Homo sapiens: one gene and its partner. The protein of the gene in region 2 interacts with the protein of the main gene of each other region in a pairwise test. Each region holds a gene or a part of one and is shown on either strand. Other genes may lie near its edges. The genes, in order: APBA2 and ARF4.

What was found.
Region 1: the proteins of ARF4 (region 2) and APBA2 interact in a two-hybrid assay, tested with the Homo sapiens proteins (one study listed by BioGRID).

What each region holds. Positions count from the first base shown.
Region 1 is NC_000015.10:29,112,377-29,119,319, reverse strand, and holds the end of APBA2 (amyloid-beta A4 precursor protein-binding family A member 2), read right to left. Parts: intron 5,445-6,943; coding exon 5,304-5,444; intron 2,259-5,303; coding exon 2,187-2,258; 3' UTR 1,005-2,186; downstream 1-1,004. UniProt on the Homo sapiens protein: Putative function in synaptic vesicle exocytosis by binding to STXBP1, an essential component of the synaptic vesicle exocytotic machinery. May modulate processing of the amyloid-beta precursor protein (APP) and hence formation of APP-beta.
Region 2 is NC_000003.12:57,579,575-57,587,675, reverse strand, and holds part of ARF4 (ADP-ribosylation factor 4), read left to right. Parts: intron 1-3,211; coding exon 3,212-3,292; intron 3,293-3,668; coding exon 3,669-3,778; intron 3,779-8,101.

The DNA of each region.
Region 1 (6,943 bases), on a different chromosome or scaffold from region 2:
TTCCAATTTCATCCATGTCCCTACAAAGGACATGAACTCATCATTCTTAAGCATATTCATTCAGAGCGAGTGCATATACATTTCGGCATATACGCAGCTCTCTGTGACAGTCTCCTATGGAACAGCTTTCTTTGCCTCTACCATGTATACTTTCTGGGAAGAGGGAGGCACAAAGCTGGTGTGCGCCTTGAAAGGCCGTCTCTTTTATATGCCCCTGATGGCCAAGGTCATGCTGGAGCAAGCCCTTGGCCCACACCCTCTGGGCGGCTAGGTGAGAGTAAGTCTTCTCCTTACTCTGCAGTTCCCCAAGAATCCTGGGCCGTGAAGGTGGTCAGTGCCCACAGCAAGGAGCTCACGCTGCTGTGGGCAGGCCAGAGAGGAGGGCTCCTGCCCATCCAAGACCCACAGCCTAACCCAGCTGGACCCCAGGCCACCGCCTCTGAACAAAGCCCGTGCTTGCTACCTGGCTTTCCCACACCAGGTGACACCAGAACGGTGGCCATGAAGAAAGGTAAGTGCTGGCAGAGCTGCCAGAATTGTCACTCTAGACAGGCTGCAAAGGACCCACAGGTGCAGACAGGGTGCTGGGATGGGCGGTCCGGCTTTTACACACGCACACGCATGCACACCTTTCCCAGGGGCCATTTACGTTGAAATCTGAAGAAGCCCAAGGCTCCCTGGCTCCCTCATTCCATTAGTGAGTGCTCTGCGGACGTGTCTCCCTGCTGGGGCAAGTGGGTCAAGAACCTGGCGCTGACCCCGTGACCTGGTAGCATTGCTGGCACCTCCAGTTGCAGCGGGGCGTTGCCCAGCTGACACCTGGTGCCCAGAGCACCCACCCACCGAACTCATTAGTGACAGCTTCCAAGGTTCAGGATCCAGGAGGAGCACAGAGCAGCTGTGGCTGCCACCGCATAGTGAATTTGCAGAGCCGCATCCAAGCTGTGAATGAAAGGACAGGCGGGCACCCGCCGCTGAGGTAACAGACCAGTCACACACACGGCTTTTCATCACGACTTCAGGTTTATTAGTGATATGCGCGAAGTCTTCCTACGGGTAGCTGCATGCAACACACGGCACTCCTCGAATACAGTCATCCTAAAGCTTTAGTTACTGCGTGGTAAGGCTTCTTAAGTCACAGTGTATTCTTCAAGGCCTGGGCCAAAAAAAGAGACTTCGAGACAAGATGACGTCAGATTACATGGATCGCTAATGAACCGAGCTGGACTAGATCCGACTTGATCTACACACATGCCACTACTGCTCAGGGCCACTGCGCCACGCTGGCCAAGGGGTCTGCACTCACGGCTGGCTGCTTTAGGTGCGGCCAAGGTCGCGTTTTCTAGAGTGGGTTTCGTTTCCTCGGGGTCGCATGTGCGTGGATGTGTGTAGATCGATTTTAAAGAGGGGGCAGACACCTGTGCCCTCCTTGTCTCTGTGGGAGCCCTGCCCGGGTATGCAGCCGGGTGGGAGGGTGCCCAGAAGAGACGACGGGAGAGGCAGGTGTGGTCATTAGTCACATTGGAAAACCCTAGAGTCTGGAAAAAAGCCTGCCAAAATAAAAGTCCAAACAGTAATAATAGCATCTAAATAAATATGGAGTTTTCATGTTGTGGCCATCATCCTTTATTTACAATCAATCAATCAATCACATGTCCCCAAACTTTCATTACAAGTCGTGTCCTGGGAGCCAGGCTGCCCGTGTCCCTGCAGTCAGTGGCAGAGGCAGCTGTTTGGGACCATTGTGGGGGCCCCACAGGACCCCAGACGTCCCAGCCAAGGGGGCGGGAGGCAGGGGTGACGGCTGCCCTGCCCCGGGAGCCGCGTCCCTCGGAGGCGCCAGTTCGCTCCGCACAGCTTCAGGGAGGAAAGACACACACTCCACACCACGCACAGCTACCGAGACACACCCTGGCTTGTGCAGGGAGAAGACAGTCCAGAACGTGGCAAAATACTTGGAACGCTTTACAAACAAACATTTGTTCTGTGACTCTCCTTTGATAAAGACATACCCCTTTTTGGCAAAATGAAAAAAATCAAGTGGGTGGTGAGGGCACACCCTTTGGGGAGCCAGCGTCCGTGGCTGGGCTGTGGCGTCGGGGTCAAGTCTGCGGCCCGGCTCCCAGCTCCTCTGGGCCCGGGCGGCCCTGCCCGGTGTCCTGGCTGCGTGGCCAGGCTGGGGTGGCCTAGATGTACAGCGGGGTCTCCTGACCCGTGAGGAGCCTGAACATGGCGGCGGGCATGGTCTTCATGTGGATCTGCGGACAGAAACAGGAGGCTGAGCCGCTGCCCTCCCACCTCCCCTCCCACAATCAGGTGAAAGCAAAGGACAGAGGCAAACCCCCCAGAGTTCTGCTTCAAATGCCCATCTCCTAGAGTGAAGGAGGAAGGCCAGCCTGCCCAGGCCTGGGGACACTTATGATGCCTTCCAGATGCAGCAGACTGAGACTCCAGGTCCCCACCCCTGGCTCCAGAGGAGTCAATACAGTTGAGTGCTAGTTTTGCTTCCAGTCCAGCTGACACCCGAGGGGTGAGAAATTGGACTTCTAGTGGTGACAACAGTTTGCCCATCCACTGGGGCTGGCTGGGGGTGGCCAGGCCTCGGCAGAAACTGCGAGGGATGCACTCTGCTTCACTGAGGAGGAGCTCAATGGGGGAAGACACACGCACCCCTTCTTTTTTTTTTTTTTTTGAGACGGAGTCTTGCTCTGTCGCCCAGGCTGGAGTGCAGTGGTGCAATCTCGGCTCACTGCAAGCTCTGCCCCCCGGGTTCATGTCATTCTCCTGCCTCAGCCTCCTCAGTAGCTGGGATTACAGGTGCCCGCCACCACACCCAGCGAATTTTTTTGTATTTTTTAGCAGAGACGGGGTTTCACCGTGTTAGCCAGGATGGTCTCAATCTCCCGACCTCGTGATACGCCCGCCTCGGCCTCCCAAAGTGCTGGGATTACAGGCCTGAGCCACCGCGCCCGGCCTACACCCCTTCTTACAAAACACACACGGGCCAGGAAAGTGTGCTGGGGGCTGGGAACAGGCTCGCTGGGGCCCAGGGCACCTCAAGTTCTTAGCCTTTGGGGATCGGTGAGCAAATGACCCTTTGGGGCCTGGCCTCGAGCCCTGACTCCAAAGGAGCTGGGTATACAAGCAAGGCCTCAGACCGCCCCAGGGAGACCAACCGTGTGGGTGGCGCGCCTTGTAATCCTTCTTTGCGGACACTGGGAAGGAGCAGACTCTAAACGTCTGCTTCAAGAACGGAAAGGGAGCTCTACTGCCCACTTCTCCTCTCCTGAGCACGACGCTCTCCCCTGTCCTGCCCGGGACTGTGCTAGGCTGCGGCCTCCGGATGGGGGGCCCTCGCACTGCCAGGGTCAGCTGCCGCAGGCATGCTGGCCTCCCCACGGGGTGCAGCCGCCGTGCATCTGCCCCTCCTCAGGCAAGCAGGTCTCGGGCCCTGGGCTGAGCAGCCCAGAAAGGCACATCGCGCAGCTCTGCTTCTGAGCGTTGCCCTCCCTCCCCCGCCGGGATCTGTGTGGCCGATGTAGGTTTCCGCTGCTCCTGCTCCCGGCAGGGGCTTCCTCCATCAGCCATTCCCCGGCGTTCCTCAACCAGAAACCCACCCCGAGGCCCCTCGCAACTGCAAGCCTTGTTTATCAGCGACTCATGTTCCGCGTGGGCTCAGAGCTGCTGGAAACAGGCACCATAACCTCGGCAGGGCTGAAAGGATTCCAACGCCCCGGCCGCCTCCTGCCTCTTCCCCGTTCTCCCGCCCGCTCCTCCACGGGTGGATTTCCTCACAGGTGTGGGGCTGCTGGCCGTGGGGGCGGCCGCTTCAAAGCATCTACTTGGGAACACTGGCTTTTCCTTTCTTTGAAGCCATCAAAGGGAGGCTGGTGTCCGCCTGGCCCCTCCTCCTCCTGAGCCAGACCCCTGCCCCCACCAGTCCAGGGAAAACAGGCCTCCCAGCTCCCAGCCGACCCTGCAGTGCACAAAATACCAGTGTCCCGATGTGGCTCCTGGAGACCTCATCCGAAGAACAGGAACTAGAGACCCCTCCACCCACCCGCCCACCCACAGGCTGCAAGGATGGTCGCCACGCACTCAGCCTCACAGAGCCACCAGGGGGAGCACCACAGACGGCCCGGCCTGCTGCTGCTGTCCCCAGACCCAAATTCCCTGCCCGGTCCCCAGCGGGCCCCTCTGTAGGCCGGGCTCCTCAGCTCTCAGCCTCCCGCCTCGTGCGGCCACCACGCTTCCCAGAGAGCCTGCAGCCCCTTTGTGCTGAACACCCCTTCACACACCCCTACACACACACAGACACACCCACTCACACTCTCCTCACACCCCATGCCTCACACCCACTCACAGACCCACAGCCACAGCCGTGCACACATACACACTCATGCTTGACACCCCATGCTCACACACACCCACAGCCACACACCCCTGCACACACCCACACTCGCACTCCTACACACCCCATGCTCTCACACACACACGTACATCCGCATACACTCACCCACACACACACACTCCTCCACACGCACACTCAGGTACATTCACACAGCCACACACCCACACCCATCCACTCATGCACCCCTATACACCCACGTGCACGCACACACTCATTTCCCACACCTACCCACACTTACCCACACTCATACATCACATCCCACACACACCCATGCTCTCACACATCCACATGCACACACCCACACTCGCTCACACTACACACACACACACACGCACACCCGCTGCGCACTGGCCAGGCCTCCCCCGGTGTATGTGCCACCTCCCCAGCACCATCCCCCCTCCCAATGATCCTGCCTCCTTGTGAGCTCTGGAGGAAAACCTGCACCTCCCCCACACCATCCTCACACTGCCGTGGAAGCGATGCCAGAAAGAACTGGACTGTGGGGGGTTCAGCCAGTGAAGTGGGACAGGGCAAGCAGCCTGGCTGTGGGAGGGGATGGCCAGCAAGGGCAGAGAGGCAAGCCTGCCAGGGTGGCCAGAGCTGTGTGCCCTGCAGAGCTTCTGAACTGGACATACAGGTCCAGTCCCAAAAGTAGTGTCCAGGGAGCACCCCCAGCAGCCTGTGCCCTCCCGGTTGCTCAGTTAGAGCCAGACCGGGATGGCTCCGCATCACCTGCCGCTCCATTCACCCTTGTCACAGCAGCCCCGATGGGAGACACAGCCTGGCTGACCTTCAGATGCCCTGTGTCCTCTGGAGCGGGGGAGGCTCATGGAGGGCAGGCGGGAGCACGTGGGAACCGGCATGCAGAGGCACACTCAAAGTCCCTCCTTACCTCTCCGACCGAGTTGGACAGAGCTTGGACTATCTTCTCGTGGGCTGTGGCCACCACGCTCTGCCCGTTGATCTCGATGATGCGGTGGCCCACACGGACGCCCCCTCGCTCAGCAATGCCCCCTCTCATGAGGCTGCAGATCTAAGCAGACATGGCCAGGTCAGCACACGTGTTCCCGCCACACCCGACAGGCGCTCCACCACGTCCCCAAAGATGGGACATGCAGAGGGAAAAGCGCCACATGATGAATACGTGCACGTGCAATTCGCTGACTCACAGACAGAGATCCTTATGATATGCAGTATGTTTCTTTAAAACAAGAGAGTTAATGCCATGGTGTGTGGGGAACCACCAAGTTTTCTGACTCCCACGGTGGAACCTGTCCCCCAGCTGCACCTCCCCCAGGGCCGCTCCCTTTGTGGTCAGGCTAGAGACTGGTGACACAGCCCAAGGCCACTGCCACCTGGCCTCCTACGGCACAGCCTGGTTACCATCCTGGAAGACAGGCACTTAGCTGATGGGCGGGCGGGAAAGGAGAGGCAGCCTGTCCCCTGGCCACCAGAAAGGTGGGGCATCTGTTCTGTCAAGGGAAGGCTCTGTTTGCCGGATGCCCAAATGGTCTACATCGACAGGGAAGAGTCACTTTATTCCTACATCCCCCCCCCGCCAAGTGACGTAAGGGCATTTTGTGCCAAATATACTGGTTCTGGTTTTGTTGGAGACAGGGTCTCATTCTGTCACCCAGGCTGGAGTGCAGCGGTGGGGGCTTCCATTCCAGCCTAAAAGTGACGCCAAACAGATGGACAGGAGGGCCTGGGAGCGCCTGTGACCACGAGACTGGACAGAATGGAAAACAGGCGCCGTGCACACCCGTGTTCACAGCAGCAGTGTTCACAACAGCCGAGGGTGACAGCACGGACTAGCGGAGAAACAGAATGTGCTCTAGGCCTGCAGGGAAACAGTACTCAGCCCTGGAGAGGAGGGAGAGTCTGAAGTGTGCTACAACACGGACAGACCTCGGGGACACTATGCTGCATGAAACAGGCCAGGCACACGAACAAACACTGTGTGATGCCACTGATATGAGGTACCTGGGGTAGTCAGAATCACAGAGACAAAGTAGAAGTGGGGGGCCGCCAGGGGCTGGGAAGGAGAAATGGGCGGTGGTGCTTAGTGGGGACAAAGTTCCTGTTGGGGAGGAGGAAGACGTGCAGGAGAGCGCAGTGGCCATGGCTGCCTGACATGCAGATGGACTGACTGCCACAGAACTCTGCACTTCAAAATGGCTATGATGCTCGATTTTAAGTTACAGATATATTTTACCACAGTTATTTTTTAAATGAAAACAAAAACCGGAAAAATGGATGTCCAAGGAGAATTAGGACTAGAAGAGAAGGGGGTGGAGAGAGGCAGATTCCATACCGCAAGGCAGCTCCTTCGCCACCCCAGGGCCCTCTTATCCTGGAGAAAGGAGACTGTGCTGAGCCCTGGGAGGAGGCGAGTGGCCTGGGATGGGAGAAGCACAGACTCACCTGTCCCAAACACACATGCGTGTACACACACATGCAGACACAGACAACTGTGAGGGGGCCTCCCCGTCTCCTACACACCAGCACCCAGATTTCTGCAGCTGGCCCATA
Region 2 (8,101 bases):
AAATATTATATATTTAAAGCCCTCAAGCAGTCGTCTTCAAAAAGATACATCAGGAAATGTAAACAGCCCAACATTTTAATTAAAAAAAATCTGCTTGGACAATTTTTTTTCTCTTTTCATAAAAGTAATACATGATTTTTGGGTAAAAAAAAATTCCTATCAGTAGAGGAGCAAGGAAAATAATTATTCATACAGTATTCATACAAGCACATATAAAACCTATTAAAAGAAAACTTGGATTACCTACATGCTTTTGTATAATTTAAAATGATATAGTCATGATTTGTCTTGGATTTCTTCAATTCTTTTCTTTGTCAGTATTTTTGGATTTACTTTTTTTTTTTTTTTTTTTTTTTGAGACTGAGTTCCGCTCTTGTTGTCCAGGCTGTAGTGCAATGGCACGATCTCGGCTCACTGCAACATCCGCCTCCTGGGTTCAAGCGAGTCTCCTGCCTCAGCCTCCAGAGTATCTGGGATTATAGGCATATGCCACCACATCCAGCTAGTTTCTGTATTTTTAGTAGAGACGGGATTTTACCATGTTGGCCAGGCTGGTCTCAAACTCCTGGCCTCAGGTGATTCGCCCACCTCAGCCTCCCAAAGTACTGTGATTACAGGCATGAGCCACAGCGCCAGGCCTTACCTTGTTTTTAAATGACAATCTGAGGTCCAGTTGGACCTCCGGTGATAACTGGCAGGTACCATAGTTTTGTGTGTGTGCGTGTGTGTGTGTGTTTCTTAATCAGCGTCTCAGTTTCAATTCTGACTTGGCTTAATCATATTTGAACTTAAAGGTTAATTTTGGTTAACTTAAAAATCTGATGCTTTCAAGAGACAGCTTTGTTGGACCATTTAAAGATCCAGTTGTTTTTTGCCACCCCCCTTTGTTTTATATCTTGTTACTAAAGATGCCAAACTTTAATGTAGCTCCTTTTTATGTATTTTTTAGAATTATGTTTTCTGATTTTTTTGATAATGTTCCATGCTCAAAAAATAAAACACTTGTATAACAGTTGGTTTTTATTATTATGCTCATGAATGAGGGCTTGATGTGGGCTGATCACACTGACTAGTAGTTGGGAAGGAATAAACCTGTATCCGAGTACGAAGTGGGGAACAGGGTTTTACAGGACAAAGGAATAAAAGGCTTGAGTCTCCAAAAAGAACTTAAAGTTATTCTTGGTAGGGTACAGAGTAGAAAGGGTTGTTAAGAGGGTAGAAGGAATCAGAATTGCCTGTAGCCTTCGCTTCTGTTTTGGACTAACTGATAAAAGATAGACTTACTTGCATAGGAATGTAAATTAGATAAGTGAGATAATTTCAGCTCTTTTTTAACTTACTAGCATTGCTTTTATGTGCTAAGTCATGCTTTGATTTAAATATTAAGAAAGTGTCCTTGCTTAAATCAATACTTGATTGAATCGATACAAAAATCTGTGATAAGATAAACCCAGGCGGCCAGATATGATATCCTAAGAACAATGATAGATTCAATGAGGTTATTAGATGTTGATCTTTCATTTATGAGGGCTTTAGCAAACACTGCAGAATATTCAGGTTTTGAGAGATTCATACTTACAAGCATTTAATTTGTTCTTCACTGTCACCCTACAAGGAGGTATAGCCTCTTGTTCTAGTGTGGATTTTTTTTCACAAGCAAACACATTCCTCCCTACTTGTACTTCTGCCTCAACTGAATCATTTTAAGAATTTAGGCCGGACACAGTGGTTCACATCTGTAATCACAGCACTTTGAGAGGCTGAGGCGGGCAGATCACCCGAGGTCAGGAGTTCAAGACCAGCCTGGCCAACATGGTGAAACCCCGTCTCTACTAAAAATACAAATTAGCTGGGGTGTGGTGGCACGCACCTGTAATCCCAGTTACTCCGGAAGCTGAGGTAGGAGAATCGCTTGAACCTGGGAGATGGAGGTTGCAGTGAGCTGATATTGCACCATTGCACTTCAGCCTGGGTGACAGAGTGATACTCTGTCTCAAAAAAAAAAAAAAAGAATTTAGATATTACTTATATTGTAGATGAATGTGATAGGGTCTTTTATTATTATACTTTAAGTTCTAGGGTACATGTGCACAATGTGCAGGTTTGTTACATATGTATACATGTGCCATGTTGGTGTGCTGCACCCATTAACTCGTTGTTTACATTAGGTAATGTGATAGGGCCATTTTTATAACAGGTTAATCAGACTTTGGTTTTCATTTTGGCACATTTAATGTTGAAATGGATTTAAGCAGGGGTAAAATTGGCTTCATCTTCCTTTATTATCATTATAAGGTCACTAGGACATAGTTACATTAAGTTCATTAGAACATAGTTATACCACTAGGACATACTTATACCAGTGTATTTTTTACCCCTTAGCATCAAAATCTGTTACCCAAATTTTACTCTGTAAATAAGAGAAAATATTTTTACAAATCTTAAGAATTCTTTATTCACTTACATGTTGTCTGAATCAACTTCTAATTTGTGTTTTTAAAAATGGTAGTATGGCTGGGCACGGTGGCTCACGCTTGTAATCCCAGCACATTGGCAGGCCCAGGCTGGCAGATCACTTGAGGCCAGGAGTTTGAGACCAGCCTGGCCAACATGGTGAAACCCCGTCTCTACTAAAAATACAAAAATTAGCCGGGCGTGGTGGTGGGCGCCTGTAGTCCCAGCTACTTGGGAGGCTGAGGCAGGAGAATTGCTCGAACCCGGGAGGTGGAGGTTACAGTGAGCTGAGATCATGCCACTTCACTCCCGCCTGGACAACAGAGCGAGAATACGTCCCCCCGCTCCCCTGCCCCTCCACCCCCCAAAAAATGCTGGTAGTTCATAGAATTTAATTGGAAGAGATCTTAGATGATCTGATCCAGTCCCTTTATTTATGGCTAATTTCTCTGGTCTCAGTGTCCTAAAGTCACTCAACTAGTTTGTCGCAAAGCTAGAGATTAGAGCCTAAGTCAGCTACATACTTGTTACCTTTTACTAGTACATGCTGTCTCTCTTGGTCTAGAAAGCAGAATGGAAAGGCTTTCTGTAGGAAGTGTTGCCTTTGGGAATCAGAAATAAGGTCATTTCATTTCTAACTCATTTAGAAGTTGTCTTGAACAGTCAACTTCTAGTTTTGAACTATAAATTTATTGTAAAATTATTTCTTGGAGTGTGCTTTTGGTCTGGATTTTAAATCTATAATGTCTTCTTCTAGTTGGATTGGATGCTGCTGGCAAGACAACCATTCTGTATAAACTGAAGTTAGGGGAGATAGTCACCACCATTCCTACCATTGGTAAGAAAGTTTACAGATGACTTTATATCATGATATGTTGTAAAGTGAAATATATACAGTCTAGTTTTGAGATTGTCTTTTTGTTAAGCATGTTGATTATCTTAGAAGTACTTTTAAAACAGGCCGGGTGTGGTGGCTCATGCCTGTAATCCCAGCACTTTGGGAGGCCGAGGCGGGTGGATTGCTTGAGCCCAGGAGTTCAAGACCAGCCTGCATAACATAATGAGGCCTTGTCTCTGTTGATGTTTAGGCTTAAATATATTTTTTAAAAATAAAAAGAAGTACTTTAAAAACACTATTCTAAGAAAATTCCACAATAAAAGGTTTTATTTTCTTAATGACGCTGCACAGCGGTCATTTTTGTTTTTCTTTGTAGGTTTTAATGTGGAAACAGTAGAATATAAGAACATTTGTTTCACAGTATGGGATGTTGGTGGTCAAGATAGAATTAGGCCTCTCTGGAAGCATTACTTCCAGAATACCCAGGTAAGGGATACTGTATGTTTTTATAACTTTTCTTTGTGGGTTTCATGCTCTAAAGTTTTTATTAGTATCTAGTATTTACTTGGATATTGGTGTTTACTATGAGTTGGCATTTGTCTTATCACCACTTCCACATTCTTCAGTGGACTCTCACTTAGGCCTTGAAGGCTAACTTATATAGGGTGGAAGAGTTGTAAAGCAATTGCGGTAAGTGTTTGGAAGATGGGGTGGGTGCTGGTGTAGTTCACAAGAATGAATTAGGTCTCTTATCCGTAGTTCTTTGCTTTCCATCTTAGTTTAGAAAGTAAGGTCTGTATAAACTGTCATTGTAGTTTCTGATGAATGTAAGACAATTGATAGTCCTTTGTTTAGCCCAGTTACTTGTTTACTTTATTAAATACAGTAAAGTCAGTTCGCTGCATTGATTTGTAAGATATTTTTATATTGCCACATAGTATGTATATATAATACTGGCATGGAAGAGACTTTAGTGATCCTGTAGAACAGGAGTTCTCAAATTTGGGGGTGGCACGTAAGAATCACATGGGGACCTTTGAAAATCCCAAGACCTGGATCATCCCCTAGATGACTTGAATCAGAATATCAGGGGATATAATCCAGGTACAGTAGTGTTTCTTAAACTTTAATATGCATATCAATCACCTGGGTATTTGTTAAAAATACACATTGAGTCCATAGGTCCTAGCTAAGGCCTGAGATTCTGTATTTCTAGCAAGTTCTCGGGTTGTGCTGATACTACTGGTCTGGTATCTTACAGCACAGCACTATTGACATTTTGGGCTGGGTTATTCTTTGTTGTTGGGTATGGGGAGGGCTCTCTATGCATTGTAGGTTGTTTAGTGGCATCCTTGTCCTCTACCCACTAGATGGCAATAGCAGCTGCCCTCAAGTAGCAGCCAAAAATCTCTCCACACCTGCAAAATATCCCCTGGGGGCAAAATTGCTCCCTGCTGAGAACCACTGTTCTAATCTAACTCTCTTACATATGAGGAAACTGAAACTTGGAATGACTTACCCAAGATGGGAGAGTTTGTTCTCACTCTACCTTTGTTTAACCTGGTCCCACCTCGATTGTGTTTTCTACCACCCAAGGAATTTCTTGTCAGTTTTTTTTTATTACTTAATAATTTTTTTTAAGTGTGATATCACTGCCACTTTATATTTTTAAGACTTGCAATGTCATCTTGTTATCAGCCTCTTAAAACATTGCATACAAGTGGGGTTTATTGCCATCAGGTGGCAGTGAATACCCTAGGTGAGTGGCTGGGACAACCAGGTTTACATAGTATGTCATATTAAATAAGTGGTATACTTTTTTATTTAAAAACGAGAATGTTTAGGCCAGGCACGGTGGCTCATGCCTGTGATCCCAGCACTTTGGGAGGCTGAGGCGGGCGGATCACGAGGTCAGGAGTTCAAGACCAGCCTGACCAACACAGTGAAACCCCGTCTTTACTAAAAATACAAAAATTAGCCGGGCGTGGTGGCGCGCACCTGTGATCCCAGCTACTCAGGAGGCTGAGGCAGGAGAATCACTTGAACCCGGGAGGTGGAGGTTGTGATGAGCCGAGATCACACCATTGCACTCCAGCATGGGTGACAAAGCGAGACTCTGTCTCAAAAAAAAAAAAATAGTAGAATGTTTATGGTCATCAATATAGCTGTGACTAGAAAAGATACTTGATACAGAGGCACATGCTTTAAAAAGCTTCCTTATGGAAAATGTTAAATACAAGGTGAACATTCCTTATCCGAAATTCTTGGGACCAGAAACCACTGTTTCTGATCTCAGAATTTTGGGGGTTTTGGAATATTTGCATTGTACCCAGTTGAGCATTCTAAATCCAGAAATCCAAAATCCGATATACTCCAGGGAGTTTTTTCTTTGTTATGTTGGTGCTCGGGAAGTTTTGGATTTGGATTTTTGGATTAAGGAAACTCAATCTGTACACCTACAAATAGAATAGCATAATAAACTCACATGTATGTATTATGCAGCTTCAGTTACTAGGATATAAGCAGTGCTGTGTTGTTTCATACTCATCTCTAATGTGCTCTACCCTCTAGACAGTTTGTTTATTTTTTTTGAGATGGAGTTCTCGTCCTGTCACCCAGGCTATGGCGCAATCTTGGCTCACTGCAACCTCTGCCTCCTGGGTTCAAGCGATTCTCCTGCCTCAGCCTCCCAAGTAGCTGGGACTTCAGGCATGCGCCACCACACCTGGCTAATTTTGTATTTTTAGTAGAGACGGGGTTTCACCATGTTAGCCAGGCTGGTCTCGATCTCCTGACCTCATGTGATCCACCTGCCTGGGCTTCCCAAAGTGCTGGGATTACAGGCATGAGCTACTGCGCTTGGCCAATATATTTTGAAAGAGTTAGATATGAAGTAAAACCTTGCTAATCCTTAAGCCTAATAATTCTTGACCAAGGGTAACCCTGGGTTTATCCCTAGATTTGTTTAGAATGCTTTGTAATTTACTTTGCATTCTTAATTTGAAATTAGACCCAATTCTGGCCTCTTTGGACCATCTGAGAATTAAAAGTCTAAGTACTGCTTCCTAGGGAGTTCATGCTAGCTGGGGAAAGCTTTATGTGTTACCTGATAGAATCAAAGCTAAGCTCTTAGCTTGCATTCCCAGCATTACTGATCAGTTCTCCTAGCTATAAAATTTAAAAGAAACTATAGCTTTAACCATGTTTCTAACTTATACTAACAAACCATGGCACAGTGTGTAGTAAATTCCTCTTATAATTCCAACTAATTTGCCATTGTAAATAAGTAAATATTTGGCTTTTCAAATAATTTCATAGCAGCTGGGCTTATCTGTAGAATCCTAGCTTTTCTTCACTCTTGATTCTAGGCTGTTCCAGGAAGAAAATAATTAGGGATTAATACCTAAAATAATTCTCCTTCTCAATAATGTCACTTTGGGACTGATAGCATTATTTGCATTTTAAAACAAAGGCTGGGTGCAGTGGCTTATGCCTGTACTCTCAGCACTTTGGGAGGCTGAGGTGGGAGGATCGCTTGAGCTCAGGAGTTTGAGGCCAGCCTGGGGAACATAGTGAGACCCTGTCTTTACATTTAAAAAAAAAAAAAAAGAATAAAAATGGGAAGTTAGCAGTCAAAATAAAATTAGGTCCCTTTTAGGGGCATTACCTCTTGTAAAGGGTAGGTTTCAGGACCGGGTGCTATGGCTTATGCCTGAAACACCAACACTTTGGGAGGCCATGATACGAGGATCACTTGAGGCCAGTCCAGGCAACAGAGTGAAACCCTGTCTCTACAAAAAAAAATTAAAAAAAAATTACCTGGGCATGGTGGCATACTCCTGTAGTCCCAGCTACTTGAGAGGCTGAGGTGGGAGGATCACCTGAGCACAGGAGTTGGAGGCTGAAGTGAGCTACAGTTGCGCCTCTGTACTCCAGCCTGGGGGACAAAAGGAGACCTTGCCTCTTTTTTGAAAAAAAGAAGAAACAAAAAAATGGAAGGTTTGGTTCTAAAAAGGAGTAGCTTTTGAAATATGGAAAGGAGGAGACATATTTGCTAAATAAATGCCCATGATAAGCCAAGAACAATGATCTTTTATATCTCTGTGATTGCATTTAATCTTTAACAAGCTTATGAAGTTAGTATTTTTATTTTATTTAGACGAGGCATAGTCAAGGATTAGATAATATATATAACAAGTAGTATAAGATTTGAATTTGAGTCTGTCTTCCCACCACACTATATTGGCTCCCAAAGCATCAAACATTATTTTTTGTTTTTGAGATGGGGTCTCACTCTGTTACCCAGGCTAGAGTGCAGTGGCATGATCATGGCTCACTGTAGCTTCAGTCAACCTCCTGGGCTCATGTGATCCTCCCTTCTCAGCTTCCTAAGTAGCTAGGACTATAGACATGTGCCACCATGCCCTACTAAAATTTTAATTTTTTTCGTAGAGACAGGGTCTTACTCTGCCCAGGGTGATCTTGAACTCCTGACTTCATGTGATCCTCCCACCCCAGCCTCCCAAAGTGGTGGGATTAGAGGTGCCATGCCAGCCAAAAGTTTTCTCAAAGGATAGGATATTTAAAGTGATGGTTTTCCAGGTGGTATAGATGCAGTGTAAAATAAAATTTAAAAATTAAGTTATGGTTTCCAACAGAGATAAAGGAAATGGACTTACAATTTGCTAAAACAAAGGAAATTGTCATTTAATGGATGTAAAATAAGTGTTAGATGCTCCTGGAGAGCCCAGTACTGTGGTAATCCTGAGAGGTAAACAGAAAATGATGTAGGATGGGGCTGGGCGCGGT